Linked DNA regions of Homo sapiens: region 2 is linked to region 1. A link means that fine-mapping ties the variant in region 1 to the expression of a gene that starts in the linked region. Tissue or cell type: lung. Region 1 holds a variant in brackets; the other region holds the start of a gene. All regions are shown on one strand. Distances are from middle to middle. Region 1 has its middle 71 kb from the start of LETR1. Region 2 holds the start of LETR1 (lymphatic endothelial transcriptional regulator lncRNA 1).

Region 1 (2,923 bases):
CTTCTTATCCTTCCCCCTCCTTAACCCCTAATGAGTCTCCATTTCTATGATCTTGTTATTTCAATCATGTTGTTATATAAATAAAACAATATACTATGTAACATTTTAAAATTATTTTTGTCACTCTCCATAATTCTTTAGAGATTCATCCAGGTGGTTCCAGGCATCAGTAGTTTTTTTTCTATTAGCATGCATGTATCACGGTTGGTTTAATCATCTTCCCCTTGAAGGACATCTGGATTGACTTTTTGTTTTTCTTTTTTGTCTTCAGTTCTCAAAAGTTTGACTATGAGTGTCTTGCTATGAATTTCTGTGAGTTTATCCTATTTGGGATTCACTCAGTTTCTTAAATCTGTATATTTATGTCTTTGGCTAAATTTAAACACATTTCAGCCATTATTTCTTAGAATGTTTTTCAGGTCTGCCATCTTCCGGTCTTCTAGGACTCAGGGAATGCAAAGGTTAATTTTTTGTCTGTCTGTTTGTTGGTTTTTGGTTTTGTTTTATTTTGGTTTTTTTTGCTATAATCTCGAAGGTCTTTGAGGTTCCTTTCATCTTTTTTTCACTCTATCTTCTCTCTGTTGTATAGATGGTCAATTTATATTGTTTCCTCCAGTTCACCAATATTTCCTCTGTCTCCTCCATTCTGCCCATGCATTGAGTTTTTTATATTGGTTATTGTATTCTTCAGTTCAAAATTTTCCATTTGACTCTTTTATCTTCTATTTTTGGTTATGACTTCCTATTTCTTTGTTGAAGCTTTCCAAATAAATTTTCATTAGCTACAAGAATGTTTTAATTGTTCATTGGAGTATTTTTATGATGGCTGCTTTACAAGCTTTGCCAGATAATTCTAACATTTGTGTCATCTTGATGTTGGCATATATTTATTATCTTTTCTCACTTAGTTTTAGTTCTTTCTTGTTTTTGTATGATGAGTAATTTTCCACTGAAATATGGACATTTCAATATGATGAGACTCTGAATCTTATTTAAACCTTTTGTTTTAGCTACCTTCATCTCACACCATCCTCACAGACGAAGGTGGGTGTCGCTTCATTACTGCCAGGTAGGGTAAAAGTTCAGGTTTCTTAACTCAGCTTCTGTTGACCTCTGAAAGGGGGCTTCTCATTCCTGCTAAGCAGGAGTGGGAGTTTCAGTTCCCCACTAGGCCTCCAATAAAGCAGTTATCTCTTGGCATACATGGGAATTTGCATCCCATGAATATTGTATTTGGATCTGCCTTCAGTTCTGGACACAGAACTTGTGGAGACAGAGGGCTTGTGGTAAACAGAGATTTACATTC[C/A]TATGAAGGAAATTAATTTTCAAGTCAATAAAATAAACTGCACAGGTACATTCTCTGTACTTAGATAACTTTTGGCCTACTCTGCCTAATTAATTATGAAGATTTTAAATAAATCATTCATTTCTGAAGAAAGTGTTTTCTGACTGCCCTTAGCCAAGCAGATGTGTCTATTCTATATTCTCACATGCTCACATGCCACCCCTTTATGACCCTTAGCATATATGCAAATTTACTTATTTGTGTGGGTCCCTAAACTAATACCTCTTCCATTGCCTGCATCTTTCAGGACAGCAGGGGCTTTGGCTGTTTTTCTTTACTATTGTCTTCCAAGTACCTAGAAGAGTATCTGAACATGCTAGGAAGTTGCTACATTTTTGTTTAACAAAATCTGCACCTAGGTGGACCTGTGATGTTCAAACCTGTGTTGTTCGAGGGTCCACTATACTTCCCAACATGTGAGGGATGGAAGTGCCTTGCTGCTGCTCTCCACATGGCTTCCACTGATATCACAGGATTAGGGGGCAGGGGTAAAGTCCCTCCTTCCTACTCAGCCTCCTCTGACACCATCTAATTAGTTTTTGTGGAATTTGGCTAGAATAGAGTGGTTATTATCTAAATGTTTTTCTGTCTTGCTTGGTTGCCCCTTTCCTTGTCCTTTGGCTAGAGACAGAGTAGTCTTTCGCTGGGGCTTTTCTTGTCCTTTCCCATTATTATTTTGGGGTTCTTGGTTCCTTGAACTCTAGGTCTGAGATATATCAGGCAAAGCTAAAAGTCAGGAAACTCACCTTGGTGTTTTCCTTGTATCCTGAGATTCCCTTGTCAGGTAGCTTTCTTCTCTCCACATTCCTGCCTTCTAATGTTTGTTTCTATAAATTCTCAGAGTCTTATCTGTACATAGAAGGAATAATAGATAAAATTATGTGTACTTCATCCTTAGTATAACATTTTTAAAGAACATTTGTGAAAACAAAGATGTCAATCATAATAACATTTAATGAGAAGATAATCTGAGTATCTTATTGCTACCATTTATCTTAAGGGACAAATTCTTTTTCCACGTTGATATGGAGGCTTAAACTTATCGACATTTTCATTTGAAAAAATAATATGTAGATTATGCCAAATCTAAAAATTCACCTCCAGTCCCCAAAGAAGCAATTCCCTTGGCTCTTCTGTGTGTGTACTGAGGTCAATATGGCAGCAGGTACTTCATGAGGCCGCGTTGTTGAGGGAACCCAGAGGATAGACAGATTGGCCATTTTTCACATTTAATTTCCTTGTTCATACAACTGCACAACAGCACTGAGTTCAAACCTGCCAAGACGAATTTATACCTCACTAGCCCTATTCGTTAATTACAGAAATGGCATTTATTTTAAGCACCAAAATGTACCATCAACGAAAAGATGGACGCAGCATCTAACAGTGCTTCTGATGATCACTCAGACCATAAAATTCTATTTTTTTGTTACTGCCATTTTTTATTTTCCCAGCACTTTAATATTTCTTCCCAAAGCAGAATAGCACAAAGATTTTTTTTTTTTTTTTTTTTGACACAGGGTCTCACTCTGTCGCCCAGTCTGGAGTGCAATGTCGTGATCTTGGCTTACTAAAACC
Region 2 (2,923 bases), 71 kb after region 1:
TAATGCTTGCGGCTGTGGTTGCTGTTATTTTTATTTTGTATTTTTCTTAAAGAAAATAAAAGAAATATGCTTTTCTGAAAAATCTTGAAGCCTTGAAGCCACCTGCAGGGCTGTTGTTTTCCAAGGCCTTGCACTTACGTAATTGACATCTACATAGACACACTCCTGGAACATATCGGGGGAGGCAGGCATTCTGCTTGTTCTCATTTGTTCTCAAATTACATGATAAAATACATGTTTTGGACCTTTTAAACCAAAGGGAGTTATTGAGCCCGCTTACAAAATCCATAACATGTTAGCAGGACTTATCTAGCTGCCTCCACAGAATAGCCAAGCAACTCTACACCCGCTTTAGCCCCCACAAAAACAAGCGGATTGCACTACAAATAATTTGCCTATTTGGAAAATGAAAGCTTCTCTGTAGTTTGAGGTCCTATTTTTTCTTTAAGTTGTTACAGTCTTTTCATGGTCCTTGAGGTCTAGGTTAGGTTTTTGTTTGGGGTAATTTTTGTATCCTATGGATACTATTTAATCTTTAGTATTGAGTCAGTATTTCTCACTTAGGCCTTAGGGGAATACTGCCTGAAGTATGTAGGGGGCATGCGGAATTCAGACGTGGCTTGGAAACTGCACCATGGGTTCACCCAAGAAACAGACCAGAGGCAACACATTCTATCACTAAAACGTGTTCTCAGTTACACTTCCCTTCCAAAGGTAAGCATCTTAATTCTTCAACTTTTTAAGAGGCTAAACCCAGTGAGGGCCCGTATGTCCACAAATAGATGACACACCCATCCAAAGCACGCGTGTGTATTAAGGGACAGCGTGTCCTCCCACGTTCCAGCCGCCCCCCTGGCTGCCAGCCGCGGGCTCAGCGCACGTACGGTCCCTGTCACCCGAGCGTACCTGTCCCGTTCTGGCCTTGGAGAACGCAGTGGCTCACAAGGGCACCGCTAGCACGCGAGGCGCGGCGAAGGGAGCGGAGGGAAGCGGCGGGCTGTCGCGCAGGTGCGGCCCCACCTGCCGCCGGATTGGCCGCGGCGGCTGCGGCGCTCCGCGGGAGGAGGGCGGATGATGGATGGCCTGTCTGCCGGCCCGGGTCCGAGCCGCGGGGGCCGCCGAGGGAAAGACGGGCGCGCGCGCGCCGCTCCGTGCCCAGCGCAGACAGCGAGATGCCTGCACAAAAGGATGGGGCTTGGAATGTTTGGATTTTGAAGATTAGTTTCTATTATATCTCTGTGGGAGAAAGGAAAACGCGCTATGGGAAAGTGGAGGGCGAAGAACCCCCGAATAATTTCGGACTGATGTTTCACAAATCATTTCGCCAGGGAACAACCCGCGAGCCTCCCCTTCCCAAATGGCAAACAGTTCAGAAGTCTTATTTGTCATGTATGTGAATGATGCCCTATCAGTATCTGAGAAACAACAGGAAATCAGACCTGAACAGTTGCATCCCCTTATCTCGGGCAATATTAAACCCATTGAAAATGGGTTAAAAAGGAGGGGCGTGGACAATACACTTTAGATATTCTACACAGGCTAAAAATATAAGATAATTGGCTAGTAAACGCTAGTAAACTTTTTTTTCGAAAAAGAAAAAAATAGAAGGATGTGCCCGATATATATATATATATCTATATATATATATATAGCACATTAGGATATGCAACATTTTCATAATTTATCTAGCTTTTACTTGTTTAAAAGTCATGAGCAATTTGAATATGTTTTGTTTGCCCTTGCAAAAGGATGACGGTGCATTGTTTTAGGCAATTCTATTTAAGAAGTGTCCTTTTTAACACTGGTTAGGTTGAGAGTGAGGGTCGAAGCAGGCAGACGGTTAGCAGGAGAGAATAAGTCGTGAACCACCATAGAAATGGGGCTGATAGAGAGCTATTGTGTCATCCGGGCTCTTCTTTGGCGACTGAAAGACAGACAGGTCCATTCACTGCAAGCATTCCTCCTGCGCAAACCGCCACGCTGAAGGTAAAGCATCTCCTGTCGAGGAGGCAGTCAGTCCTGCAGGTGCTGATTCATTTACTTCTGAGAGTAAAATAGTTTAGAAAAAACCAGATTTTTTTTTCTAGGAGGAAAATGATTTTCTGCTTAATTGTGCTTTTGAATTACACCATCTTCCTCTGCCATGTCCACTACCACCACGAAGAAAGTGAAAGCCATGTTTAAAATAGTAATAAATGAGATGGAAACATATCACCAAGGTATATTTTATATAACTGATTGAAAAGCGAGTGGGTGGAAAGAGAGAGCTTAAGTACAAGTGTTTCTCTTTCAAATACCATATGAACAGAACAGTAACTTTAGAAAAAAGAAATGGGAAAAGGAAACATAATAATCCCATCAGGCTAACAGGGACAGCATATACCAAAAAAATGCCCATGTAAATTAAATGTATGCATGCTTCTTACTAGAATTGTTTATATGTATGCTTACATACTTATAAAAGAGTACATTTGAATTGTGGGATTATGTAGTGATTCACACAGCATTATGTCGAAGGGACTTTTTAATATTATTAGAGAATATCCATATTAACCAATTTTAATAACTGCATAATCTTTCATTAATTGTATATATGGTTTGCTCAACTATTTTCCTGATGTTGGATATTTAGGTTGCTTTTGGATTTCACTAGAGTAAATAACACAGTAAGGAACATCTTGAGGCAACATTTCCATGTTTTAAATTATTAATTTCAAAGAAATTTATTGAAGTGGAATAAATGGGCCATACATTAGGAACATTTTCGTAGTTTTTTTACAATCATTTTCAAGCTAACTTACAAAAAAAAGTATTGTACCGCCCCATCCTGCCAGCAGGAAAATCTTGTATTACATTTTTTTCAGCTTTGTTGAAGAAAAATTGACAAATAAAAATTGTATATATTCAAGGTACACAATGTGAC

Evidence for each region.
Region 2: LETR1 starts here. The variant in region 1 is fine-mapped to the expression of LETR1 in lung (TOPMed, PIP above 0.99). The same link has a PIP of 0.9 or more in coronary artery, ovary, thyroid, tibial artery and tibial nerve.

What each region holds. Positions count from the first base shown.
Region 1 is chr15:95,254,583-95,257,505 of GRCh38, forward strand. No RefSeq gene overlaps it. Among named protein-coding and RNA genes, the nearest start is that of LETR1, 71 kb to the right of the region's middle. The variant C/A (reference allele first, on the strand shown) is at 1,307.
Region 2 is chr15:95,325,924-95,328,846 of GRCh38, forward strand. LETR1 (lymphatic endothelial transcriptional regulator lncRNA 1) reads right to left here and starts at 1,177. Exons shown (of 4, transcript NR_034095.1): 1 at 907-1,177.